Regions from separate parts of the Homo sapiens genome. Here all the other regions are linked to region 1. The links come from fine-mapping of genetic effects on plasma protein levels. A gene starts in region 1. Each other region holds a variant in brackets. All regions are shown on one strand. Distances are from middle to middle.

Region 1 (8,123 bases):
CTGAAAAACCACAACCGTGCACAAAAGCCACTGCAACCCTACAAGAACATCCTTCCGGCATCTGCCTGTATAACCTCAAACTGGCATCATCCTTGTTATTGGTCTTTGTAGCCAAGGATAATTATTCTAAAACAATTATGTAATCCTCATATTTTTCCTTTAAAAACCTTTGTCTTCTTTTACTTCCTTGAATATACACACAATTCATAATCACACACATATTCCCATTGCAATGTTCTATTCCCAAACAAATATCTTTTTTTTTTAGGGTCTTTCCCTGTTTGTTATTTAGTTTAACAACAGTTATGCATATTAACCAAAGTTCAGTCCTAAGCACAGGAGATGTATCTGTGAACATCAGAGACAAGGTTCCCACCCTCATAGAATTTATAATCCAACAGAAAGAGACAGACTGTAAATAGATACCAGGAAATAAATAAGAAGGTGCTGAACATGAAATATGAAATAGAGTGATATGTCACAATGTAATGCACTGGAAGGAGAAGGGACAGGGTGGCATGCAACTTCAGTTATGATGGTTAAGGAAGGCCTGTGAAAAGGCAACATTTAAGTTGTGACTGAAGGACAAGAAGGAAGAAGGAAGCAGCCAGGCAAATTGCTGGGTACAAGTATTTTAGGCAGAGGCCTAACAGGAGGAATGGATTTGGTATGCTCCAGGGACAGACAGAAGGCAAGTGTGGCTGGGATGCAATGAGCAAAGCAGAATGGTCCACGATCAAGTCAGAAAACTCAGCAGGAGGGATCATGAAGGGCTTTTTAGACCACAGATATGTGAATATTATCCTGAATAGAAGTCATTGGAGAGTTCAAGCAGGAGAATCACAAGGCCTGACTTACATTTTTAAAGGAATATTCTGGCAATTGGGTAGAGAGTGGATCGAACTGCTTACTTTTAGAAGCAAAGAGTACAGTTTAGGGCCAAAAAAAAAAAAATGAAGCTTGGCAAAGGATTGAGCAGTGGATATATTTTAGAAATAGAATTGGCAAGATTTTTTGTTGTTTTACATGTGGGGCTGAGGAAATGGGAGGATTCCTGACTTCTAGACTTCTGACTTGGGCTACACAATTGATAGAATTACCCTGTTCTGAGGATGGAAAGCCTGAAAAAGGAGTGTGTGTGTGTGTGTGTGTGTGTGTGTGTGTGTGTGTGTTGTGGCCTTGAGGTAGGGAATTGTGTTCAGAATCATTTCCATTCAGACTTGGTATATCTAACACACTAGGCATCCACATCAAGATGCCAAGTAGGCAGTTTGCAGCTCAGGAGAGAGGACAGAACTATAGATAATAAATATGAGTCATCAACATATAAATAGTATTCAAAGCCATGAGACAAGATGAGTTGAGGTTTTTTAGGAAGAAGAAATGAAGAAAGAAGAGGCTCAGGGCTGAGCCCCAAGACCCTCTAATATTTAGAGATAGAACAAAAAAGACTAAGAGACAACAGGGAAGTATGGAAAAAACAGGTAAGAGTGTCTTGGTTTGGAAGATGAGAATGATAATGGTTTCAAGGTAAAGGAAGTCATCAGTTTTTGCTGAAAGACTGAGAAAGATTAACATAGAAAAATGACCATTGGATTTATCAGCATAAGGGTCAGTAGCGACATTGCAAGAAACAGCTTCAGGAGACTGTGGGGAAGAAGCCTGTCTGAAGTGGAGAAGGAGATAACGAAATTTGAGTAAGTAGTCAATGAAAAGTTTTGCTGAGAAGAACAAGAAGAGGGACAGGAAAATGGAGTTCCAGTGGGTCATGAGAAGGTCCATAAAGGATTTCCTGGGGTATACTTAAATGCTGGTGGGGATGATCATACAGAAAGAGGTACATTGATGATGCAAGGTAGGAGATATCTGCAGAAGTAAAGTCCTTGCAAAGGCAAGAGGGTATGGAACATGATCATGAATACAGGAAAAGGAGCTGAATTTGTCAGCAGAATGGATACTTCTTTCATTGTTATAGGAGGAAACATACCAAGATTTCAATTCATATTTATTGAATTCCAAATTACAGGCTATTGATAGGAACTCAAATCAGGAAATAAGGCAGATTAAGGTCTTGCACTCATGGAACTTGTATTCCAGTGAGGGAACAAACAACAAACAGGTACATAAATAAGGAAGAAGGTTTTAGATGGTGATAGGTGGTCTGTAGAAAATAGAACACAGTTTTGTATTGGAGAGTACCCTGGAATATGGATACTTCAGACAAGAGTCAGAGAAGCACAACAGAGGGCTGAGCCTTGAATGTCAAGGAGACAGGCAAAGAATAATTTGTAGGAAGAGCATTTCAAAAGAGAGAATACCTAGTGCAATTGTGCTCAAAGAATAAAGAGAAGGCCAGTGTGGCTGGGGCAGAGAGAGTGAGTGGGGTACAGAGAATTTCAGGGAGAGGCAGAAGGCCTCAGACTGGAGAATAAGGGGTATGGGTTTTATTCTAATGTGACGGGAAGGCCTCAGCAGGTTTTCTGCAGTGGAGAACAAAATCTGATTCTAGATGGAGGTAAGTTTGTAAGTTGGTAGGTTTGTAGCCGATTAGAAAATGGGAGCATTCTTGTTTCATGGTTTTGTTTTCTCAGCATAGGATAAAGTTAGGTGGCCACTGAAGGCTTGAGTAAAATCTAGAAGTGTAGGAAATTTGAAACTGTTTATGCAAATAGACAAAAGGAAAAATAGGAAAACACTAAAAAGGAAATTTGCTTCCATTGACTTTGCTTATAGCAGTGTGCCCTATAGATACTTGTTGCAGAATCTTCTAGAGTGATTGTTAAACCTCAGCTTTCCTGTGCTAACTCCAAACCTATGAACCTCTGGAGGGGGAGGTGGAACCAGGAACCTACATTTTATAAAGGTACTTTAGTATTTTATTAAGCACACTCAAGTGCAGGAACTGGCCAAGAGATGATGTGTGGAGAGCATGCAGTAGCAGTAAAAGTTAGCAGTGGAGAGTGGGCAAAGCATGAGCCATGGGAGACAGGTGGGGAAGACCATGAGCAGCGCATACAAGACAGGCAGCTGGAGAAATCAGGGGGTGTGAGCTTCGGTGAGATCCCATTCCAAAGGGCTAGAAAGGCTGAAGACACCAGATTTTCTTCCACTGGAGGCCTTTTAGATTTTTGAACAATGGAGTGAAATAATGAAAATATATATATTTCTTAATTTTTTGTTTTCATAATTGGAAAGTGACCTATAGGTCACTCTTTAACCTTTCCAATCATAAGAACCAAAATCTCTTAAAAGAGATGAGGTTGTTACACAGGTAATTATAATGCTTAGGATGGGAATACTGGTACAAAAATGAGAAATGGACAAACAACAGAAGCACAGTAGCTTGAATGGCTGATAGGTAGACCTGGTATTTCATGGGGCTCCAGTTAAGTGACCTACATGATGCTGCTGCTGTGGCCCTGAATTGGCAGGACTGGTGAAGAATTTGATTTTCAGTTGATAATATCCTCTTTGAAATTTAGAAATAGGTGAGAAGTCAGGGACGTACTCTGCTCTTAGAAAAAGTGTGAATATACATTTGTTCAAAGGGAGTTAATATGCAGAAAAAGAAAAGAGATGAAGATAATGGTCTGGAGAAAGGTTTAAGGGTCAGGAGACAGTAAAATGTCAGGAAAGCAAAAAGTTGTAATAAACTAATATGTGCTGTATTCCAGACACCTCAATAAGCTGGATGTCCATAGAAACAATTGGACACCCAGCTTGTTAGCTTAAATGCTGGCTCCATAAAATCAAGTCTGTACAGGAGGCTTATTACTGATATTTAGTAGTAACGACTAACATCCAACTTTCTTTGCTTAGTTTCATCTGTGCTCAGGGCAGCTCAGTGAGGTGGAAGGCCAGTTAATCACTAGTTTCATTTTACAGATGAAGAAACTGAAGATCAGGGAGCTAAATGACTTGCCAAAAGTCACCCAGTTATTGAGGTCTGCACACAGTAAACGTCTTATAAACTAGGAATGCACGGTACCGTGGAGATAATTAGAAACTTAGACCCATCCTGTAGCCAAGAGACGCTAATCTTAATTATAATCTTTCTTTAAAATCAAGCCAATCTGGAGGAAAAAAAGATATAATAAACGGTGAATGAGACCTTTGCGGACGTCCACACCATTACAGTAGGTTAATAACAAGAAGAAAACAATAGTTTTAATCCATGTCTCAAAAATAACTACGGATGGTTAATGTTTAGGATCTCTACCAATATCACATTAGAGTTCAGAAAATCTGAGACCCATGCTTGGGAACCAGGTCTTACTCTTATTTAGGGAAGGGAGCCGAGGTTCTGCCGCTTTTGCTGGGCAAGAGCGCGGTTCGGGTGTACAGAAACAGCCTCACGTGGCTAGCTGGTGCCTCATGCAGTGGGTAGGTTTCCCGTGGCGAGCGGTAGCGCTGACCGCCGGCCAGAGAGCGATGAGCACCTGCAGAATCCTGGGGGCGGGGAGCCCGGCAGGAGACCGCGAGCACCCGCACGCCGCCAGCCACACCGGGCCGACCAGACAGCGCCCCTCTGTGGCGCAGCCTCCAATTCTGGAGGTCCCAGCTCCCGGAGGGGCCAGTGGGGACAATCAGGACCAGGCGGTTTATTGCAGTGGTCCCTCAAAGCTAGCGGGAGGCGGACACGCGTCGAGCACTGCCCCCACCGTCTCGCTTTTGGCCCCCTGCTTTGCATCGCGGCACAGAAACTTTCCCTGCCCGGGACGCGTCCCCACCTCCGTGCTCCCCCTCCCAGCTCACCGAGGACCCCCGGTGCGACGAGAGCCAAGAAAACCCCGAGCAGGCCCGCGGCGCCCATGCCACGGCCGAAGCCCCCGCGGCGGGATGCGTTCCGAGACCCGCGAGCGTCCGGCAGCTCTGGGAGGGCAAGGCTGGAGCAGCAAGCAGCTGTGAGCCAGGAGAGGCGGGCCCTTAAATAGTGTCCGGCACACGTGCTAGTTCTGAGCGCACACCTGCAGGCGGCCTGGGGGCTGACGCGGCGCCGGTGAGGGTGGGACAAGCGGGAGGGACGGCCCGGCACGAGGTGGGCGGGGAGCTCTGAGCCACTCTTTGGCTCAGACTCACCCCTCGTTGCGGTGGCTTCCCCACTTTTTTGACCACGCAACCCACTACACTCACTTGTTTCTCTTACTAGAACTTAAACAAAACTTTCACAAGTTAGTACTCACCCTTAGTAATCTACAATGTTCGTCCTCTGTGCCATGCTGTGTTATGCTAGACTAGGCTAGGCTATCCTATTCTTATTAGAAATCCACCAAACTCATTTCAAAACCTATTAGTGGATTCATCTCCCAGTTTGAAAAAGCAGTGTAAGTTTACTTAGGGAATTTAGGAACAGCAGCCACTTCTGCTCTGTTCTTTATTTTGAAGTAATCTCTACAGAAAAGTTTCAAGAGTACTGCAGAGAATTCCCATATACTTGTCACCCAGATTCTCTGCATGTTAACATTTTGCTGTATTTTCTTTACCATTCTCTATTCTTTCTCTATAGACATATATGTACATATATGTGATTATATAATTATAATTATATAATTATTACTTTGGAACCATCTAGCATTTATTCCTATTCTAAATGGTTCACTAAGGACTTTCTGTTCCATAACTAGAGTGCAATGATCAAAAATAAGAACTTAACATTGACACAAGACTATAAGCTACCATCTGTATTTAAATTTTGACAATCATCTCAATAACCTGTGTTATGGTAAAAACAATAACAACAATAGAAACCAACCTTTGTTTTTCCTGGTCCAGAATCATTTCAGGATCATGTATTGTGTTTGATCATTATGCCTTCCCCCCACCCCCAGTTCTTTATTCTGGAAAAATGTCCTCAGCATTTTTGGTATTGCATGACCTTTACATTTTTGACGAATACACCACAATTATTTTTGGAGAATGACTTTTAAGTCCGTTATCTATTATAATAACAAATTACCCTGAAGGTAGTGGTGTAAAGCAAGAATAAACATTTATGATCTCACAGTTTCTGTGGGTCGGTCAGGTGGTTCTGGCTTGGGATCGCTCAGGAGATTGCAGTTAAGACACCAGCTGGAGGTGCAGTCATCTGAAGGGTTAACTGGGATAGGCGAATCCACATCTAAGATGGCTCACTTACCAGCCTTTGGCTGGAAGCTTCATTCTTCACCACGTGGATTTTGCCATAGGGCTCGCTGCTTGTGTGTTGAGTGTCCTCGTGACATGCCAGCTAGCGTCTCTGAGAACAAGAAAGAAGAAGCCATAATGTCCTTTGTGACCTGTCCTCAGAAATCACAATATGTTAACTCCAGAATATCCAATTGATTGTACAGATCAGCCCTTTTCAGTGTAGGAGGGCAGTATACGTGGATGGTAATGTCAGGAGACAGGATCACACCCCACAATTTGGATTTGTCTATCATTTCTTCATGATAGATTCAGGTTATTGAATCTAATTATTTGACAGGAATACCAGAAAGGATGTCTTATCCTTACGGGGAGGCATATGTTGTCTATTTGTCCTATTACTGGTGGTGGTAACTTTGATCACTTAGTTAAGATGGTGCCTGCCATGTTTCTTAGTGTAGACTCAGTATTTTTCCCTTTGTAATTAATAAGTATTTTATAGGGAGATACTTTAAAACTATGTAAATTCCTCATTTTTTCATCAAATTTTTACCCACAAATTTTAGCGTCTATTGATGATCCTTTCTTGAATCAATTTTTACTATGATGGTTGTCAAAGGGTGTTTTTTCCTAATTTAATAATTACTTCTATATTCATCTGTTGGCATTTTACTGTAAATAAAAGTTTTCCCTTCTCTATTTATTTATTCATTTATCTATATCAGCATAAACTATATCAATATGAATTTTATTTATTTACTCAATGGGTCATAATTCATGGCTACCATTATTTATTTTGATGCTTAAATTCTCCCTGATCGGGCCAGTGGGAGCCCTCAAAATAGTTCCTATGTCATTTTGACTTGTTCTTATTGTTCTTTGAGCACTTCCTTACTTTCTGGCACACACACAAAAAAAAATGCTCCAGACTCACCTCTAGACCTGACACTGGAATTTGCTGTTTCTCCAAGGAATGCTGGTTCTTTCTGGCAGAGAATGGCATTTAGATGCCAGAATTGGATGCTAAGTGTGTTCATTTTTATTGGAGTATCATTGTTTCCGCACCCTCTCAGCAGACAGAGCAAGGATATGTATTATATATATATATGTATATCCATTCCCATATCTATATTTATATATGTCATGAATTCACAGTGATTCTTCCAATTTCAGTCCGTTAGCATAGAGTTCATTCTGTCCTTCCCTCTTTCTGCATGTGTAACTCCCTTCTTCAACAGTGAGACACCTAGATCCACAATATATTTACTTATTTGCTTAATCCTAGAATACACAGAAAGAAGTTTAAAATTGCTATTTCTATACTATGATGGAAATCAAATCTACTCGTTTTTAAAGTTTTATTTTGTTTATAGCCCGAAAATATAAAAACAGCATTGTTGTGTTCCAAAGTTACTCAGATTATTCCCCCTCTTCAGTGTGATTGTTATTCATTCAAAATACTGTTAATTTGTTTCTCTTTGTATTCTATTTTAGTTTCCCCTCAATCTTTTTGATTTTTTTTTGCTTAAATAAAACATTAACGTAGTCCCAAATGTCAGATTGATATAAAAAGACACAATAAAAGGGAAATGTCACTTCTCTCCATCACCTCTATCCTCTCCACCATAGGTACTCAATTTCAGTAGTTTCTGGTTTGTCCTTAGTTTTGCTCAAATGAGCTGCTACACATTTGTCTTCTTAGTTCTCCTTTTTTATTACATTTTAAAAGCATGCTATAGGTATTCTTTTGCACATTTCTTTTTTAACTTAACAAATATGCTGGAATCCACTATTTCCTACAAATTCAAATATTCCTCATTCATTTTTACAGTTGCATGCAATACTTCACTGTGTGGATATGCCATAGTTTATTCAACCATCTCCCTATGTATGGACAGTTTGGTTGTTTTTAATGCTCTAAAGAGTAACTTTGTGAATATTTATTTTTCTGCTGTTAGAAGCATGTCTTCAGTTCAAATTCCTAGAAGTGGGATTGCTGG
Region 2 (8,123 bases), 27 kb before region 1:
TGGCAAAATGAAGTAGGTAAATGAACAATTGCTATGCATGATTACTGAAGACTTGTGCAATAGTAAGAAGCATGTATATACACCGTGAATGCTACGCTTATTGATAAATACAAGTTGAAGGAAATTTTATATGTAAATTAATAATATTCCATTTCATTACATACCACCAGTTTGTCTTCTGATCAGCTGGCTGGGTTGTATGGATCAACAGAATATACTTCTCGTGCTTCTAAATGAAAAGCTTCTTTCTGGCTTGTATCTGTATAATAATTGCTAAACAGAAGAAGAAAGAAAAATGTAATATCTTTACTCATTGACCATGTTTCAATGTAGCAGTTGTTTGCTTTCCATAATTCCCAACACATGGTAAGTACTTTTGTGGATGATTTCATTTTTTTAAATTATACTTTAAGTTCTGGGATACATGTGCAGAATGTGCAGGTTTGTTACATAGGTATACATGTGCCACGGTGGTTTGCTGCACCCAACAACCCGTCATCTACATTAGGTATTTCTCCTAATACTATCCCTCCCCTAACCCCCAACCCTGTGAAAGGTCCCAGTGTATGATGTTTCCCTCCCTGTGCCCACATGTTCTCATTGTTCAACTTTCATTTACAAGTGAGAACATACGGTGTTTGGTTTTCTGTGATGATTTCATTTTTATTGTTTTTATCCTATGAAGTGTAAACACTGTAACTCCATTTTTTGGAAAGGCACATAAAAAATGAATGATCTAGGCTTGTAAGTGTTCAAGTCAGAGGCTGACACTAAGCAGCTTTACCCTAGGATCCAGGACGCTTAATGACTAACAACTACAACTTCCAAATTGAAGAAAAGAAGCAAAAATAAGTTCTTATTTTAGATCATAACTTTACCCTTTTGGGACTCAATGTTCTAGTCTGACTTAAAAGCTTTAAACGAGTTTGAAGAGAATGTTTTTACTTTCCTTCTTTGAAAGTACACATATTTCATTGTGCTTCTAAAACCACTTTGCCAGAATTACTAAAAGACAATAAAATGTGATTATACTACCATGTAAAGCTCTAAAATAACATAATACAAAATTACTGGGGAAGAAAGAATACTGCTAAAGACACTGACAGCATGTCACTCACTAGAATATTGAAGAGTTCCGTGTACAGGAGATATGTTAAGAAGATTATAAAACAGTAATTTTTAGGTCAATGTGAGATTTAAGCTTTGTTACAATATCTTAGATGACTAGAAAAGAATAGCATAGTGTCTTTCAAGTGTTTAGATGGCTTTTCAAAATATTTAATATTGTCACTAGACATTCATTTTTAAATGATTACTCATCTCATTTAAAAAAGCATTTCAGGCCATTCAAGTGTCTTTATCAATTATTGGAAAATCAATTGAAGTGGGTTAGCAAATGGAAATAAATGAATGGCAACTAGGAATCTGGTTAAACAGGTATGTTTGCTTCATATCAGTTGAGGCACTTAAGTATAGTACATGATATAATCATATTAATAAACAATAATTAGACTGGAATATTATAAATTATTTGCACTTGTAAGCATTCCCCAAATTTGCAAATTTTTATACACATGCAGTGCTCTGATAGCAAACTCAGTAGCATGAAGGAAAGAGATAGAGACTGTATTTTCTATGTATTTACATTTCTAATGCCTCTTGGCTGAAATTATCTTGTGACTTCCTATGAGGAAGGCCCTGCAAATGACATCCCTAATTTTTTTTGAGACCCTTTTCTCCTTGAATTCTGTGACGCTACTCTCTGCTAGTTTTCCCCCTGCCTCTCTTCCTTCACTTTCTGCCTTTTGAACATTACTGTTCTTCTGAGGGCTGTTCTCATCCCAATTTTTATCTGTTCTGTTCTTTTTGGTTCCACAGCTTTCATTGTGATTTAAGTGTCACCCACCCGAGTCCAGACCCTTCTCCCAAGCCCTAAATCATGAGTACCTCAAAGTACCAGGTCAGAACCGAACTCCTCATCTTCCCCCACAAATCCTGCCCCTCTCCTCTTTTAGTGAGTCAGGGGGTCCACCTCATCGCCTTCATGTGAGCCATTCTATGTGCCTCCTTCTCCCCACATCCAGCATGTCACCAAGTCCTGGAAATCCTGTCCTCTTGATAGCAAAAAACCTCTTATTAAATATTCTCATGGTCCTTGTGATTCTCCACAAGAAAAAAAAACAGTGTGCAGTATGTCCAAATCTTATTTGCCATAGAACACCCTTTTTTTCTGAAGTCATTCATGAAAGCAGGGTTGTGTGGTACACACTCTGGTAAACTCTACACTCTAAGTACACGCTAACTGTACAGGACAGCCAGAACCCCATAGGCAGCCCTCACCCTCCCGCCTCCAGCCTAGAACAAACTGCCCAGGTTCGTAGATACCCTCAGTACATAGTTTCAGTGCAACCCCTTCATGTCTGAGCCTATTCTAGGAATTACATAACTGAGCCATGGCATCAGATGGCACTGGTGGCAGGGTAAATGATAGATGCAGGGGACTTGGCACGTGAAAGAAATTTTGCTGGAGCTTTTTGGTGACATGTTTTAGGTGGCATGACTTGGTCATCTCCCCACTCGGAGCTACCTGAGAGTTGGTAAGACTTCATTGGATTATCCGCCCTAACACTAGCATGTACAAAGACTCACGAACCTATGCACACATAACATCCGAGGCCAACACCTGACGGTATGCTTTGTTAAAAATGTATCCTTTGCACATATTAGTATTCTGTAGCTTCCACAAGATTTACGTGTCAGGGTTTTTTTTTTTTTTCTTTAATGGCATGTCTCCACCTAAAGCTATGCCACTTTCGCCTTCAATCACCATCACACACACACTATTTCCCAGCCATTTCAAATGGGTTATGTAGTTCTCACAACACATGATGGAAAGCCAAGCCTCTGGGCCTTTATTCAAACTGCTCTTTCTGTCTGGAATGCCTTTCTCTTCTTGTCTACACTCTCTTGAGGCTCACCTGAAACATCTCTTCCACGCTGAAACTTTTCCTGATTAAAACTCCCAAATATTGACCATTTGCTTTGCATCCTCACCAAATATCATATAATCCACCATGGCGACGTTATTTTATGGTACTTGTTTAGCGACATGCTTGTCCTCCTTTACCAGGCTGTGACCTCCTTGATGACAGAGGCCATATGCTACTAGGCTTTGTGATTCTAGCCTAGTATAGTGCTAAGGCATAGTAGGCACTCAGCCATTGTTGTATAAGAAAAGAATGGATGGACGTGGTCATTCCTCTTTTCGCATGACTTCTATTTCTCTAACATTACTGCTCAAATGTTTTAAAAGCCATGCATGTATATACTAGATAGAGCAACATATGAAAGTATCTACAGCAAATTGCTGACATCCATCAACTTAATATGTTGGACTTGAAGGCACCAGCAGTTGTTCAGTGGAAGAGACTATTCAGTATCTTTATAAACTAATTTGCTACAACAAGCATATTTACTTTTGTATTTTAAAAATTTATGCAAATATTTATAGTGATATAAAAATATGCTTAAAGAAGGGAAACAAGATTTTTCAGTGATTTTAAATAGGGAAAAACAACTTTTGTGACTATAAATACACTTTATGTAATATAGAAAAGAAAAAAGGATGCAGTATCATTTTTAGTGATAAAACACTAGAGGCTTTATATTAAAAATAAAGGTTAAAATATGCCAATATTCCCTAATATTACTGAAGATTTTCCTTAAAATTCTTCTCAGTAAAATGAGACAAAAACAAATAAATGAAAATGTATAATCGGTAGATATGAGGTAGAAATTATTTCTACCAATAATAATAATTGGTAGAAAATATAGTTTTCTACTTAGATGATTGGGTAACTCACTGAAAAGCTATTAGAATTAATGACTGTATAAAGATAGACTTTCCTAGATATCATTTGCAATTACTTATAAGACATAACCAAAAATGATTCTATTTATAAAGCAATAAAAATAAGATACTTTTATGGCTATGTAGCTTATATAAGGTAATCTATTAAATTTTAACTAAAATATAACAAAACATCTGAATAATTAGTCATCTGGTATTTCTGGAAGGAAATAGTGAATATCATGAAGAGGTCAGTTCTTCCCAAATAAATATATAGGTTTAAGGCACTTCCTATCAATGATCTAAGATTTTATTTTATTTTTCTAGGGTATGGGAGGTGTAGTCGTGGTGCAAATAATTCTATAGCCTATCTGCAAAAATAAATAGAAGAAAATTTCAAAATAGTTTTGAAGAGGGGGAACACATCTCGGAAAAAGCTACATTTATTAATAGAGTAGCTCTGGCTCATAGAGACAGGCCGATCAGTGGAATATAATCTATCTTGCATATTTATGTCAGATATCTCTGACATAAGCCCCAGTGTACACAAGAATTGAATAGGCGTGCTTTATCTGATAAAGAAAACTATGACCAATGGTGAAGGGATGGTTTACTCAAAATAGGTTTTGAAAAAATTGAATATATAGGGAAAAAAAGTACAAGTAGGTTTACTTCAACTACCATACCATAAAATAAATTCCTAATGGATTAAGATGTTTAAAAATAATTAAAAATAATATGCAAAAATATATCTAATTTCTGGATAAGAAAACATAACATACCAAAACATAGAAACGTAGTAATATAGTTAATATTAAGTAATCATGAAAATGACTAAGGGAGAGAAAAGATTACTTGATCAAATGGAAAGACCTAGTATATTTCTGAATGAGAAGACATTACAGAAAAGATGCCAATTTCTCACAAATTTATCTATAGACTTAAATGTAATCACAATTTTTTTTTGAAATTATAAATGATTCTAAAAATCACCTATAGGAACAAACAGAAGAGAATAGAGAGGAAAGTCCTATAAAATTGTAGTGTGAATTCTTGCCCTACCAGATATAATAACATAAAGGTATTAATTAAACACAAAGTGGTTTGTAATGGAACAGGCAAATCAATGAAGCAGGAAAAGGGGTTGAGAAACACGACATATCCCAGTACATTAAATATTACTAAGAACAAACTTCCTGGCAAGTCATCTGACAATAGTTATCAAGTATATTAAATGCTCATGCACTTATCTTTAGTAATTCTAGAAATCTATTCTAAGGAAATAAGTGGGTATGAAAAAAGGTTTAGCCAGAGGTGCTACTCCTATCTTTATATATTATCAAAGTAAATTTGGAAGGAACTTAAAACACATAAATACATATATAAATACACAGAATAGAATAATATGCTATTTAGTAACTGAAAACATGACTTAAAGCATAAAAACATAAACATGAGTCTAAATGAAAAAAATCAAGACAGAAGATGAAAATGACAAAATTTCAGTTTAAAGAGAGAAAAAATATACGAAAAAGATCAGATACGAATACACCAAAGTATTTGCAGTCGTTCCCACTGGGATTTTTTTCCTATTCTCTAGATTTGTTTACAATATACTATCTGAATAAACATCATTCAATAAAATAAGCTAAGTGTTTGATATCTCTTAAGTCCTACAGAAAGGGCTTCCTTTTGTATAGCACGAGATACTTCATTTAGTTATCACATTGCAGTATTTATTTCACATAACTTGTGCTTCTGTGTTTAGTTTCAGACAAGAAGCCGAAACCACTTGTGCATGTTGGTCAATCAAGTATTCGCCTTTGAACTTACCGT[G/T]CTCTGTGTTTTGATATCACGTATAAGGTAATGACAATCAAGAAGGTAAGAAGTATCAAACCTGCAGCAATACCTAGAAGAAAAATCCAGCAAGTATCAAATGCCAGAAGACGATCACCTACATTGTTCTGACTGATTGCAGGGCCTATTGCTAGTGGTGGGGAAAATGTTATGTGACTCATACTTAACTCTTCTTGGACATAAATGCTGAATTCCTGAATAATCATAGTTGAGCTTAAGGTTTTTCTGATTTGATCCAGTCCACCTTTAATCTAAAGCACCAAGCACATGACCACAAGGTTCCAGTCAACTTTTCATTGAGTTTTTCTGTTCCTTTTAGTTTTATTAGTAACAATCTTGTCACTGAGGTGACAAGAGAGAAATCTCAAGAATAGAAATTAGGTGCACAGGACACCAGGTTCTTATAATTTTGCATAACATTTAACTCTCAGCTGTGAAATGTATTTTGCTACAGCAGAAGAAGCCTGCCTATTTCAATAGACCAAATCAAGCCAAACACCAACAGTTAATAAAAACTAAAATATCAATTTAAAAAGAAGAAAGAGCTGGCTGTTCAAATAATTTATCCAACTCTATGCCAAAGTGACATTTTGTAATGTGACATGTACATTGAAGTATCTTTAAAACACCAAAAAGAGAACATTCCCTATGAGTTAAATATATCATCAGATAGGATATAGGACCTCTAGCATTACATATTTTTAAAAAATATTATAAGAGCTTTTCTTCAAGTATTTAAGAAGACTTACCACAAAGGACAGGAGCAAGTGAACCTAAAAATAGTACAAAATCATGAAAATGATTATCAGTATAGTGTCATAATTCAATGTAGCCCCACGTTTCATGGTAATGTCCCAGAAATCAACACTCTAGCTCCCTTCCAAGTCGATTTAAAAGATGTACTGGGGCCAGGCACAGTGGCACATGCCTGTAATCCTAGCACTTTGAGAGGCCAAGGTGGGAAGATCACTTGAGCTCAGGAGTTTGAGACCAACCTGGGCAACATAGTGAGACCTTGTGTCTATTTAAAACAAAAACAAAAACAAAAACAAAAACAAAAAACAACAGATAAAAAAGATGTATTGGAACCTTGAGTTATATCCACTTGTTTCTTATGTAGCAACTCACTGGCCTTTTTTTTTCACTCTAAGTAGATTGGGGGAGTCCACCAATGACAAAAACAATATACTCAACTTTATAATCAGAGATTTCTCAGGTTAGAATGCAAATATTAACTGTAACAACTATTTATTTAACCTATTTCTGGAGTTCCCTGTCAAATTGTAAGCACTTATTAACTCAGATTCAGCACGTAGGGTGGTCTATGCAGCAACTCCTTTCAAAATTTCAGGTTGCTTGTTTCACATTTTTGTTCCTTTTAAATTAGTGTTTCTATTTTCTTTTCTTCACTTTCCCCATCCTAAGAAAGTTGTGTTTTTTCTTTTCCTTTTTCTTTTTTATTTTATTTAATTTCTTTCTTTCTTTTTTTTTTTTTTTTTTTTTTGATAGGGTCTTACTCTGTTGCCCAGGCTAGAGTGCGGTGGTGCAATCATGGTTCACTGCAGCTTCAACCTCCTGGGCTGAAGTGATCCTCCTATCTCAGCTACCCGAGTAGCTGGGGCCACAGGTGCACACCTCCATGCCTGGTTATTATTATTATTTTTTTTTTGGTAGAGACCAGGTCTCACTACATTGCCCAGACTGGTTTTAAACTCCTAGGCTCAAGCAATCCTCCTGCCTCAGCCTCTCAAAATTCTGGTATCACAGGCAGAAGTCACGGACCTGGCCAAGCTGTGCTTTTTCTAGAATAGACCACTGACTTCAAGTTCCTCTGTAATTATACAACTGGTCACAAACCTATGTCAATTTAAAACCCAGGACTCTCCACGCTGAGGGAAACTCTCACTCTCTTCTCTCCGTTAGCCAGTTACAAGCGGCGGTGAAGCCCTTGGTACTTACGGGATCTGCAAACCGCCAGGGGAGGGTTCCATTGGTGATCCGATTGGCACTGGCTCTGGGGACTGCCTTCCAGCATATACCCATCTTCACACTCCAGAGTTACAACAGCTCCATACTGATACATTTTCCTTGGTTCCAGCCCTTTCTGGATTCCATCCATATCTGCTGGTGAGCTACAGTTTACCTCTGAAATTAAAGAAATCTAATTCAAGCACAGTCATATTTTGGCCTTTTACCAAGAAAGCAGAAATTTCCCTTAATAGAAAGATTTATAAAACCAACCTGTTTCACTCTCAGTAAGGAAAGCTGCACTGAAATAGGATAAGACTATATCCTAGACACAATCTTTTACTGTCAGCCCTCTATCTCAATAACCTCTGGGTAATTTAAGCCAGATTATATTTGTGTTTTTTGCTTCAGTTTCTATCCAAACAGTGATGGATAATTTTAATGGCTT
Region 3 (4,846 bases), 19 kb before region 1:
TTGGTACTTTATCAAATACACACTTAACATAACTGTAACTACAGTGTGTAAATACAATCTGTGCTTTGGTTGTTTAATTTACAGACATAACTCCAACTTTCTATGTGTAAATGACTACATAAGTGGTCATTCACCAGATAGACTACAGCCTGAGACATTTTTTCTTATTTTGAGATATTTAATGATTGTATTAATCTAATTAAAGCCTTTAATGTAATCAGACAGTTAATTCATTTCTTTGGCTATTTTAAGTTGAAAGTACCCAACTGAATATATCTATTTGGCACAAATTTGATATAAAAATAAGAATAAAAAATAGACAAAGCACCTTTACAATGAGGGGCAGGTTGGCTCCAGGTTCCCTCATGTGTGCAAAGAAGGAGTGCCTCTCCCACCAGCAGGTAGCCTTGGTCACAGCTGTACAGGATTGACATTCCAGGAGAAAATCGAGCTATGTTTCCACCAGTATGGTTCCCGTTAGGGGTCTTAGGCGGAGGTGGACACCCTATGAAGGCTTAGACACCAATAAGAAAGGGTCTTTAACTCAGCACAGAGGAACACATAGCCTGCACTATCTCTGGGTGATAGCGATACAGGAAGGCCAGAAGCAACAAGCCAACTAACTGGTATCCAAAAACATTCATTCATTCCACCCAGACCAGCAACACTGGATGGAGATCTGCATTTCCTACTGATAGCCAATATGATTTGAAGAAAAGTGTTAAAAAATAAGATAATGAAACATTAATGGATACAGTTCACAATGGTAATCCATCAGCCAACAGTTTTCTTTTCCTTTCCCTTTAAATAGCAGACATGGTTACACCTTCAAATGTCTACGAGAGCTAGGAAGTGAAGCCACCAGATACGACAAGTCAGAGAGCCCCTGTCCTTCTAAAAGTGGCAGCCACTGCTCAGCTCAAGTTACTGGTGCCTTGCTGGGAAGCAAAGGGGGTCTTGTGGCTCGCAAGCTCACTATTTATCTTAAACTGAAGATGGGTTTCACTTAAGATTACTGTGCTGGTCAAAGACAACCGTTGCCAAACAGCCTCTGCTGTAGATAGTCATGGACAGGAATAAGGCTGCCAAATGATAACTACAATTACAAGAAAGACAATTCAATGGGTTGGAGGGCCAATTAATTCTCCAGAACACCCAAAGTTCTCTTTCTGGCTGGCAACATAGCCTTAAATATCAAATAATTAGCAATATTACTGCCAAACATTTGCCAAAAATGTATGTGCATTTTTCTTACACTAAAGTCATAACAATAACAATTTTTGGAGATGCTATCAATTTGGAAGTTAGCCATTATCCTTTCATGTACTATTTATTGCTCAATATACTGAGAAAGGAAAGAGAAAACAAACAATCAAGTGAGAAGATAGGAAAAGGCAAATATCTTGTAAAACAATATAACTGCCTTAGCTCTTAGATGCTTTTCTTTAGGCAGAATGTCAAGTGCAGATTCAAAACCTCTTTTCTTTATTCTGTACAACATCCCATAACTTATCCCTTCCAAGTATCTTACCTTTTTTGATACAAGTTGGCACACCTGGCACCCATGTGTTATCAGTATGACACCTAATCACGCGACTACCATTCATGATGAAGCCAGGATTGCAGTCAACATACACTATGTCATTGTGGGAATATGCAGAATGTGTTTTATTGAGCTTGTACCCATGTTTGACTTCTGGATTAGGGCAGCGAGTCACAGGAGGAGATCGTAAGCACTGTGGGGAAGGCCCGCTCCAAGATCCATGTCCTTTAGAATCACTTCTGCACTGCAATTTTTTCTCTCCCAGGAGATAGAATCCTTGGTCACATTCATAAGAGACTTCATTTCCATATAGAAAGTTTTCTGCCATCATGCCTGTGTGCTTCCCATTGACAATCACTGGTGGAGGGTGACAGTGAATAACTGCAGAAGAGATTTAGGGAGTTCTACTTCAGCTAGTACCTCAAGGTGAGCGGTCTTCATTCAGGTACAAATGACAATATGCAACTGCATATATTTCACATAACTAGAAAATAACTTAAATTTTGGAATATGGATTATGCTTTTTTTAAAAACAGCTTTATTAAATGTGATTATAGGAGTACTATATACTCCATAAAAATTCAGAAAATAGAGTAAAGTGTGAAGGAAGAAAGAAATACAGCTATGTTCCCATGACCTAGGAATATGGGCTATATATTTTGTTATTGTTAGCAAAATTAGCAGATGCATGAAAAACAGTTCCTACTTGACAATGTTGTTTCTCAGTGTCAATACTGACCAACACCATAAGATTTTTCTTATCTAACCTCCAATGAGGGAGACGCCTAAGACTGCTGAAGCAGCAGTAGACTAATTCTTCAGTGGCCTGCCCTCTCTAATCCTCCATTACCATTGTCAGGCTTTTATTTTTTCTAACTTACCTTTACAAAGTGGAATCTTTTTGAA[C/T]CAAATTCCATTTTCAGCATCTTGACACATCTGATAAGCATGTCCAGTCAACTGGTACCTACAGAGAGACAGATTATAATGCATTTCCTGTTCCCAATATCATATCTCTTCAAACTGCATGCAAAAAGGGACTTCTAAATAAGAACTTTGGCAGAGAGGAGTTGAAATTCTAGTAAAAAACTACTTTTTTTTACTCCAAGTAAAAAAACTACTTTTGAGTTAAGCAAAGCCCTTTCCATGTCAAGAGACGACTGAAGAGTCAGAGTTGCTATTTAGGCCATTGGAACCTCATATTCTCCATGCCTGTGACAATGAGGAGCCTCTAAAGGATGCCACCAAGACAAGTTGAAGGTCAAGTTAATCCACAAAACAAGGTTGAGACCTTTTCTCAGAATAGACCACTTCATACTCACCCATCTTGGCAGGACGTATTAACTAGCTCCACACGTGAACCAGCTGGAAGTTCTTGAAGACTCTGTCTCACATGCTGGCATGTTTCTGGAGAAGCAAGGATGGAATTACAGTATTTATAGATGTCTCATATCAAAGAGAAGGACAACTCTGGAACTTAAAGTACCTTCACACCGTGGGGCAGAAGGACTCCAATTTCCTGAAGGCATACAGTGAATGGATTTGTTTCCCACAAGCAAATAGCCAGGGTCACAAGTGTAGTCTACAGTCATCCCAGAGACAAAGAAGACCGTATTTCCACCTGTATGACGACCATGGTGGAGCCCAGGAGGTGACTGGCAGCCTGAAGAGAAAAACTCCCTACATAAATACCAACACAGAGGAATTTCTACTCAAGAACACTAAGTGTACAACATTGGACAGACAGTCTGAAACTCTGATGCCAAAGATCATGAAGCTCAAATTCACTACTGAATGCTGTTTGCTCTTTAAAAAGGCTCTCTCATTATCTACCCTGAATAGATCCCAGATCCAAGGGGGCATTTGCATGCACACACACAACACAGAGAACATCTATTATAGGATGGAAGAAACAGAAAGTAATCTGTGCCCCTCTTGCCTCTTTCCATGATGCAGTTTTGGGTGGGAGATAATAAACAAGAATAATTAAGTAAATCTCTCCTTTTTTCCCCCTTATTGGGTTTTTACCTTTTTCACAAACTGGTATTTCAGGATCCCAGGTGTTATCAGCTTTGCAACGAATCTGACTACTGCCCTTCAAAGTAAATCCACTATAACACTTGAATGTCACAGTGTCATTGTAGAAATATGGGGCTTCCTTGCCAGATATCTTGTATCCATTTGCAATATGGACATGTGAGCACTGGACAGCAAGGAGGGAAAGTTTACACAGGGGAGCAGGGCCACTCCAGGTGCCTCTTTCTTGATCATTGCTTGTACAACGGATGGTGCTCTCTCCAATGAGGCTGAATTCCACTCCTCTTTCTGGCCCAGGGTTACATGTGTAAGTGACCGTGGTTCCATATGGAAAATCTTCTAAGGAACTCCCGGTGTGTGCCCCATTGTAGATAACAGGGGGTGGTGGGCAGGTGATTTCTAGAGAGATGAAAAGATACTGTAGAATTGAGTTCCTGTATTAGACACCAAAGAACAAAGAACCACCAAATGAAGCTGGTTATGAATCTGTTGTTTCCTGGACGGTATGGGTACATTTTCATGATGTGAGTTGTGTGAAAGCTCATTAAGTATGTAAAATGCAATTTAAACACATTTCATAGGAAAGAAAATCTTTATTCAAAGTGAATGTGGTTGATCAACATCACATTAGGAGTTAGTTAGGCCCAGTAGTAAATTGCTAATTAAAAGAAGAATTCTTTTTAATTAGGCAATAGGAGAATAAAAGACACAGGGTAATAGAATTATGCTTTCTTGGTTACTCTGTGCTGAGGTGATATGATGGTTTATATGGCTAGCTGAGAAAACTTATTGTTGAATGAGCACCTACTTTGTGATAGGCAGTTTCCTCATCCAGAAAGTAGCAATAGTACAATTTAATTTGAATAATTTGAAGTCTGTAGTGTTTTTTAAATTTTCTACGTTTCTTTTTACTTTTTTTTTTGAGATGGAGTCTCACGCTGTTGCCTAGGCTGGAGTGCAGTGGTGTGATCTCAGCTCACTGCAATCTCCGCCTCCCGGGTTCAAGTGATTCTCCTGCCTCAGTCTCCCAAGTAGTTAGGACCACAGATGCATGCCACCACACACAGCTAATTTTTTGTATTTTTAGTAGAGATGGGGTTTTACCATGTTAGCCAGGATGGTCTTGATCTCCTGACCTTGTGATCTGCCGCCCTCAGCCTCCTGAAGTGCTGGGATTATAGGCGTGAGCCACTGTGCCTGGTCCTTTTTACTTTTTATTTACATTCTCTGGACCTCCTAGTCTGTAGTCTTATGCCAACTTTACAGAAG
Region 4 (8,123 bases), 12 kb before region 1:
GACTAGGATGAGAATTTAATTCAAGGCAATCTTAAAGTTAACAAAATGTCTACATTTGAGGCCTGGCACCTTTGCATTGGGGTACAGGGGGTGTCCACACCCCCTCAGAGGTACACTGTATGGATTCTTCTCCCACCAGCACATAGCCAGGGTTACAGCTATATTTTATAGATGTTCCAGGGTCAAAGCGGACCATGTGTCTATCTTCCTTTTGCCCATTGAGGATGTTAGGAGGGGCCTGGCATTCTAAATGAAAGGACAAAAACAAAACATAACTGCTTAAGTAAACAACCACAGAAAGAAACTGAGCCAAAGAAATTGATATTCATGCTATAATTCCACTCTGGCGTCAGCTGTATGATACAGAACATATGTTGCAGACCAGCTTTGGGTAATTTTAGATCACAGTTTCCCAATCTTTTGTTGTTGTTGTTGTTGTTGTTTTCTGCACAGAGGCTGCTGCAGATGTTGTTCACTTTCCACTGGGTTCTGCAACTCCTCTCCTGCCTCTTCCCTTCATAAGGAATCATCTTGTATGTTTTTTATGGGAGATTCTGATATATCCCTAGGAATGAGGGCTTGAATGACTTCTCTTTTAAGAAGTCACTATTAAGACAAACAAGCATTTTTCTCCTCATTTTTTCCCCTATAGAAATGAGAAACTTAGTGATTCCTAACATTTTTTCCAAGCATATTCCCACAAAATAAAACAATGGTGGGGGGCTAGTGATAAGAATGCCCTCTACAAAATTTATATTGATTAGATGTAGTAGATTTGAGGGAAGTATAAACTGGACAAGGCCCTACCTAAAGCCCACAACCCCTTCTTCTAATTTTTCAGAAACGAATCAGAAGCACCTTTTCTGAGTACCGGAACACTCACCCTTTTCACAGACTGGTGCAGATGGCTCCCATGTGCCTTGGGCATTGCATCGGATTTGCTTGCTGCCCTTCAAGGTGAAGCCAAACATGCAAGCAAATATCACAGTGTCGTTATAGGTATATCGATCTTTCTGCCCAGATACCATTCGGCCTCTTAGGATCTGGGGATGTGGACACTGAACCGCAGAAGTAGAAAGTTCACAGCGTGGGGCAGGGCCACTCCAGGTCCCAGTCTTCTGACTATCAACTGTACAACGGAGAGTGCTCTCTCCAATAAGGATGAAGTTCACTCCTTCCTCTGGGTCCGGGTCACAAGTGTAAGTGACTATGCTTCCATATGAGACATTTGCTAGTGAGTTGCCTATATGTCTTCCATTGAGAATAGGGGGAGGTGATGGGCAAAAAATTTCTAGGGGAATTGCAGAAAGAAATGACAAGATCATAGGTGTATTGAAAACAAAGAATGCCCCAGATGCTGCTTGATACCACTATCCTAGGACAGTGATATCCGAGTCTATAATGAATCAGTCAAGGCAGCTAAAGCAACATAATTTAGAAGATTGATTCTCAAGCTTCATTCCTGAGTATATGTACTCTGCTGATCCTTTGATTTCTTTTACCAAATACACTATTTTCTTTATGCATATGGTCTACCTACTTAGAAGGTCTGCATAGCTTTCAGAGGAGGGAAAGCCTAGGAACCCCATTTTACTTGAGGAAACAAAAAATAAGGATGCTTTGGTGAAGCACATATCCTTAAAGATCTCTAGGAGTTCTGTGTTCAGTAAGAGTCTGTAAGGTAATGACTGAACCAAAAGCTTTTAGTTAAGCTGAGAATGCAGTGCTGTCAGACCATAGTTGCCTAGCCTACCTTCACATACTGGCATTTTGGTCCAAGCAACTCCCTGTCCAGCAATTACACACCGACTAGAAGGTGGGCCTTGCAGTCGATACCTGGAGACAGAAGGTTGTCATTCAGAACTATTAGGCAGTTTGTGCTGAAGAACAGCAGCCTCTACTTACAATTCAAGACAAGTTCATTTCAATCAGTGTGCATCTGTTCCTTTTATCAGCATTACCTCTCACAACCCTACCCCAGACTGCCCAGAGATCCTCACAGAGGAGACTTCTGCAGGTTTCACAGTCCACACCACGCACACACAAGACAAATGAATTAAATCTCATAAATAATCCTGACACTCACCCTTCATCACAGAAAAAGTTTGCAGTTACACCAACCCGGAGAATTGGAGGCTCCTTTACCTTCCCATTGGGAAATCGTCCTAGAGATTTACAGCGTGCCTCTAAAAAACAAACCAAAGATGAGAAATGCATGGCAAATAACAGAACAGCCCAGATTCTTAAAATAGATTGTAAATTTAGGGTACCTTCACATGTGGGGGGGACAGCACTCCATTTTCCCGAAGACAAACAGTTAATGATCTTTTCTCCAACAAGCAAGTAACCAGATTCACAGCTGTAAGTCACAGACAATCCT[G/A]GAGCAATGGAGCCAACATTCTCACTTGTGTGATGTCCATTGTGGATCATAGGAAGTGCTGGACACTCGAGAGGGAAAACTTTACACACACATACCAGGAAAAAAAAGCCGTCAGATGATGCATCCTTCACAATCTAGAATCAAGGGGGTCCAATCTTTTGGCTTCCCTGGGCAACATTGGAAGAAGAAAAATTGTCTTGGGCCACACATAATATACGCTAACACTAATGATAGCTGATAAGCTAAAAAAATTGCAAAAAAAAAATCTCATAATGGTTTAAGAAAGTTTATGAATTTCTGTTGGGCCACATTCAAAGCCATCCTGGGCCACATGCTGTCCACGGGTAGCGAGTTGGACAAGCTTGATCGAGATGCTGACTTAGGATATGGATTTAAATAAATGACACATGATCTATGGTAGCCAGTTGGTATTAACTTTCAACCTAGTCTTTTAAAGATCAAACAGGTGTGGTTTAAGTGTATCCATTTTATGCCACAAATAGCCATAAATAGTACCTTATTTTTCATTTTTAGTTACACTATATGAATTACATTTGCCTTGTGAAAAATTTCAATTACCAAAAAAAGTCAATTTTCACCTATATTCTCACCCTATCCTTAAGCTTATTCTCTGTTCCAAAAGTAGCATGCTATCATTTCAAGGGCTATCCTGGTAGATATTGGCAATATAGTTTATTGGGATCCTATGCATGATACATATATACACCTATATTATGTGTGTGTGTACAACTAATACATATTCTATGCCTTACTTCCTCTACTTAGCGACATGTATACGATATCCTTCCATGTCCATACATATATGTCTGTCTAAATTGTTACAAAGGCTTAACTGTTTTCAGCAGCCATTGCCCTTTGTAACTATCGTTAAGATCTCCTTCCTCCAAGGCTATTTATCAATCAATCAATCAATAAACAGAATCCCATTTTATACTAATTTAACAGTTTTGTCAGCTCTTTAATCTGCTTAAAATTTGTCAATATTGTTCTTTATTAAGAAAATACCTAATTTGATAGTATAATTTTTGTCAAATATTGCCATTTCTTGTAATTGTGGAATTCAAATTCAGATTTATATTTCAGCAGCAACATAAACCAAACCAAAAGAGAAGGAATGAATAATTTACAGTAGGTCCCTATTTTCAAAGGCATTTATTTGAAATGTGATGGCTCAGAAGATGACTTGGGGAAATAGTGGATAACTTCAAAACATGTTTACAGAGACCACAGAGAGCAGGATATCACCTGTGCTAGACTGTGTTAGCAGCTACTTATACATTAATTTCAAATCCATTGGGTGTATTTTTGCTATAAGATCCCACCGTTCTTCTCATTTTAACAGTAACACAGATATACAGTTGAAAACCACCCCATTCCCACATCCCCAACAAACTCTGACCCCATCCTTGCAAAACTTACCCTACTCAATTATTAGGTGTGTTTAATTACATTTTTCCATGTACTTTAAACTCCTTTGCTCAATTGATGTTTTTTGAACGAGCAGTTATATGCCTCCACGAAGAAGCCATAACTTTCACCTTTTCCCTTGTTTCCTTCTTCCACCCTCATCATTACATGTTCACACTGTTTGTCCTTCAGGAGGGTACAAAACGTGGTCTGCACAGAAAGGCAAGACCCCAACCTCCCAACCCAGCTTTCTTTTCATACTCACCACTTACACAGGTTGGTAGTCGTGTCGGCCCCCACATATTATTTGCTTGACACCAAACAGACTTGTTTCCGTTCATGGAGAAGTTGGTTTTACAGGCAAATGTCACAGAATCACCATGTCTGTAGGGTGTAGAGCCTCTAATTTTGTATCCTCCTGGTACTATGGGCTCAGGGCAAGAAGAATATTTATTGAAATATTCACATTTAGGAGCAGGTTTATCCCAGGTTCCATCCACTTTGTCTTTAGTTATGCATAATAGACTTTTTTCTCCAATGAGGCGGAAGGTACCTGAACAACTGTACCTTATCACGGTACCAACAGCAATGGGGGTAGAATAATAACTAATCCGGCCATTTAGGATAGGCGGAGGAGAGCCACAAGAAATCCCTGAAAAGTAGAAAAGGAACTTGGTAGGCATACTGATCATGGTGAGAAAATATTCAAATGTAGGTAAAATATCCAAATATAGATCACATAACTTTTTCAGAAACAGACTTAGAAATATGTATAGTTTATTTATTCCCTGCTTACTCCCAAACTCCTAAATTCTTACCTTTTTCTTGATCCTCAGCAAACAGATCAACATAAATCATCTTGACCAAACAATAATAATGAAAAGAATATATCCAAAAGTTCTGAGTCTAATCAATTTTAATAATGAAACAAAAGGCAAATTCAGCACATGAAAATAACATATTAGTGGCATGATAGTTACATGTGGGGAGGTACCATGGATTAGGGAAATTTGAGCTCAGTGGACCTAGTTTCAACTCCCCACGGTCATTCAATAGCTGTGTGACCTCAGGCAAGTCTTACTCTCTTTAAGCTTCAGTTTCTTAGTCTATAGTATAACGCAAACTACTTCATAAGGTATAGTGAGAATCCAGTGCTAAAAGTACATGAACAGAGAAAGTACAATACCTGGAACATACTAATTATTCAATGGCTGCTTCAAACACACAACTGGGGGTACAGGCTGAGATGACCACTTTTGGTCCTGCTGCTGAAGATGCTAGAGCCTCAGTACAGGTGATTTGTCCTGACTTGAGGCTGGAACACTTTGAAAAAGCCACAGGAAGTGAACAGAGGTTTTGAATAATGGCCTCATATTCTTCATTTACTTGTCCTAATAACCATGAAGGATATTGTTTACATTTACTTTGTTATGCACGCCTTTTCTGAGGGAGTCTCAGAATAAAGGGAAAATTGCCAACCTCTAGAACTTTCAGTTAACTTCCCTTTGGCTCCAAGAGGAGGTCTTCAGTGAAAACTGACATAAGAAGATACAGCCAAACTGTTTCATCACATCAGTGCTATACTTGGTTTCAGTAAGGGTAACTTTCGAGAACTGTTGTCTTTATACATATAGAATCTGCAGTATAATATATACTCAACTGAATCAATTTAACATCTTTGGTCTGCATTCCAGAAGACAGAGAAGAGTGGCATATATATGTTCAAAGCACACCTATGGATAAGATGTGATAATTATATATATATATATGTATGAAAAAATCTCTAATCATTGACTTTGGTGCTATCTGCTTTTTTAAAAAAGCATCTTTTAATTTCCCCTACAATAACACAGATCTAGCACTGCCCCAAAATACAAAAGAAGAAAAAGTCCTACATCTGCAACATTTAGATATTACTTTCAAAGTTTACTTTTAAACTCTTTAACTAGGCAGGGTGTGGTGGTTCACGTCTGTAATCCCAGCACTTTGGGAGGCTGAGGCAGGTGGATCACCTGAGGTCAGGAGTTCAAGACCAGCCTGGTCAACATGGTGAAACCCCATCTCTACAAAAATACAAAAATTAGCCAGGCATGATGTTGGATGCCTGTAATCCCAGCTACTCGGGAGGCTGAGACAGGAGAATCGCTTGAACCCAGGAGGTGGAGGTTGCAGTGAGCCAAGATCACGCCATTGCACTCCAGCCTGGGCGACTGAGCGAGACTCCATCTCAAAAAAACAAAAACAGAAACACAAAACAAACAATAACAATAAAAAACTCTTTAACTAGAAAACTCAACCACATATACTATCTTCCTTCTGCTCTTTCCATAGGTACCATATATCTATTTCCCAGAAAAACCTTGTTTTATTTCTAGATCCTGAAGTTTCAGCCCAACTCACCCCTGAAGCACTTTGGCAGTAGAGGATTCTGTTTGCTGTTTAGTTGACACCATATTACATTGCTGCCTTTCAGGGTAAAACCAAGCTTACACTTAAATATCATGTATCATTTTAAAAAAATGAACATAATCCAGATTCCACAACTCCATTTTCAACTTCTATAATTGAGCATTCAAGTAAGAGTAATACACTGAAGAGGAGGGTTGCTCCAGAGCTCCAGACATCAACTTGATTATCTTTGCTGGTGCAATGCATTGACTTCTCATCCAAGAGGTCAAACAGCTTTTCCCTATTACATCCAATATGGCACTGATGATTTCATAGCAAACCCCTCTCCCTGCTGCTGCTGTCAAAGTCCCATGGGGGATGGCTGGGAGTGACTTACAAGGAATACCTTTTTAAGGAGTAGGTGGGGAAAGAGAGAATATTATACTTTCTGAGAATTTTCTCTTCATTCTTGCAATCCAAACTGCAACTCAGCCTACAATTTACCTATTTTGTTGAAATTCTGTATCCTGATCTCAAAGATGATTCTAAATAGGAAGTAGCAAGGTCAAAAGATATATGGAACTGGCTGATAAAAACCGAAAAGCTATGAGCTGGTCACCAGTCCCCGCCCCAGACCACAGATAAATTGTTATAGAAGGGACCTAGGGTGGCTTACTTTTTGCATGGAATAAAGTTGGCAGTGTGTAATCTCCTGGAATGTTTTAGATGTAAGCATTTACTCACTATGAAATAACTTATAATCAAAGGACAGTAAACAAAGGAACGTGTGGTAGGATTGGGGGCCATGAGGAAGATGGGTAAGTCATAGCTGTGTGCCTAGAGCTACTCAAACCAAGTGTAAACCCTCCTGGCTACTCACTTTGGTGTGCAGATGCTCAATTTCCCTCTGGAAGGGGACAAGAGGAATTAAATAGGGTGCAATAAAGAGATTGTTTTACTTACATTCATTAAAAGGCATGTCATTATCCCAGGTTACAATATTGTCTGAGATAATACATGTAGCAGATGAGTCACCAAAGAGTAGATATCTAAAGACAAAGAGATAAGAAATCTCGCGGCACACGTTTACCCTGTAACAAAACTGCACATCCTGCACATGTACCCCAGAACTTAAAATAAAAATAAAAATAAAGAGTGATCATCTCCCAGCTAGACTTACATTTTAGAAAAACTTAGTTCTTTCTCTACTGAAAGAATAGCAGAGAATAGAATATCATTTATGACAAGCAGGGGTGACAGATTAAGGACTCATACAATTTAAAGCCAAATGAAATTCAAGCTCCTGGTCAGTAGCACTGGAGACTTAAAACTGGAAGAGAGCAGCCAAAACTTCCTTCTCTTCTAGGGATCCTCTCTAGCTGGTAATCTTGAAGCAGTGTCTCTGGAGTGGATCAGGGAGGTGATTCCTTTTTGCTTATTTATTTTAAAAAGTATGTGGCAATTACTCAGATCTCTTTTGGAAGAGTGATGGTTTCTGGTTGGAACTGCTGTTCTGGTATCCATGTACCCAGGAACTGTCTCCTGCCAACTCACCCTTTATTACAAGAATATGTCATTGTCAACCCAAATGCAATACCCATGTGTGTAATCACAGAGTCCTAAAGGAGTTCTCTATGACTCACACATGATTTATCTACAAAAGAAAACCAAATCAACCCAAACAGAATTTGAGGCTGGGATTCAGGAGACTTTTTGGAGACTTTTTGTGTTTTATATTAAATCTCAACCTGACTGGACTTGCTGACAGGCCTGCTTATGTTTACTCACAGAAATTCTTACATTTACAAAACTTTCCAACGGATCAGTCAACTCTAGAACACTACTTGTTTAATGCACACAGTCTGCATTTCTGTGCATGGATGCCAACTTTATTTGTGGTCAGTTATAACTTATAGTCTTCATTTTC

Which allele goes with the higher level. Alleles are on the strand shown, and positions count from the first base shown. The strength of an association depends on the size of the effect and on how common the allele is.
With allele G in place of T in region 2, the plasma level of the protein whose gene starts at base 4,904 in region 1 is higher (moderate association).
As copies of C replace T in region 3, the plasma level of the protein whose gene starts at base 4,904 in region 1 goes up (moderate association).
For the plasma level of the protein whose gene starts at base 4,904 in region 1, A is the low allele of the variant in region 4 and G is the other (moderate association).

Evidence for each region. PIP is the posterior inclusion probability: the model's chance that the variant is causal. Protein levels are from antibody-based Olink assays in UK Biobank. Linkage for the fine-mapping came from a reference panel and not from the study's own genotypes, which makes the PIPs less certain.
Region 2: its variant is fine-mapped to the plasma level of the CR2 protein (UK Biobank, PIP above 0.99). The variant lies in the coding sequence of CR2. If it changes the protein, the assay may bind it differently, which can mimic a change of level.
Region 3: its variant is fine-mapped to the plasma level of the CR2 protein (UK Biobank, PIP above 0.99). The variant lies in the coding sequence of CR2. If it changes the protein, the assay may bind it differently, which can mimic a change of level.
Region 4: its variant is fine-mapped to the plasma level of the CR2 protein (UK Biobank, PIP above 0.99). The variant lies in the coding sequence of CR2. If it changes the protein, the assay may bind it differently, which can mimic a change of level.

What each region holds. Positions count from the first base shown.
Region 1 is chr1:207,451,109-207,459,231 of GRCh38, reverse strand. It overlaps CR2 (complement C3d receptor 2), which reads right to left and starts at 4,904. Exons shown (of 20, transcript NM_001006658.3): 1 at 4,756-4,904. The coding sequence starts at 4,813. RefSeq lists silencers at 4,346-4,455, 4,836-5,065.
Region 2 is chr1:207,477,614-207,485,736 of GRCh38, reverse strand. CR2 (complement C3d receptor 2) reads right to left here. Exons shown (of 20, transcript NM_001006658.3): 16 at 7,667-7,852; 17 at 6,457-6,480; 18 at 5,684-5,759; 19 at 165-273. The coding sequence ends at 183. Among named protein-coding and RNA genes, the nearest start is that of CR1, 14 kb to the left of the region's middle. The variant G/T (reference allele first, on the strand shown) is at 5,687.
Region 3 is chr1:207,471,902-207,476,747 of GRCh38, reverse strand. CR2 (complement C3d receptor 2) reads right to left here. Exons shown (of 20, transcript NM_001006658.3): 10 at 3,569-3,976; 11 at 3,027-3,203; 12 at 2,863-2,947; 13 at 2,425-2,507; 14 at 1,532-1,924; 15 at 329-514. Among named protein-coding and RNA genes, the nearest start is that of CR2, 20 kb to the right of the region's middle. The variant C/T (reference allele first, on the strand shown) is at 2,450.
Region 4 is chr1:207,462,863-207,470,985 of GRCh38, reverse strand. CR2 (complement C3d receptor 2) reads right to left here. Exons shown (of 20, transcript NM_001006658.3): 2 at 4,074-4,460; 3 at 2,271-2,459; 4 at 2,087-2,186; 5 at 1,754-1,836; 6 at 884-1,291; 7 at 70-246. Among named protein-coding and RNA genes, the nearest start is that of CR2, 13 kb to the right of the region's middle. RefSeq lists an enhancer at 510-1,709. The variant G/A (reference allele first, on the strand shown) is at 2,381.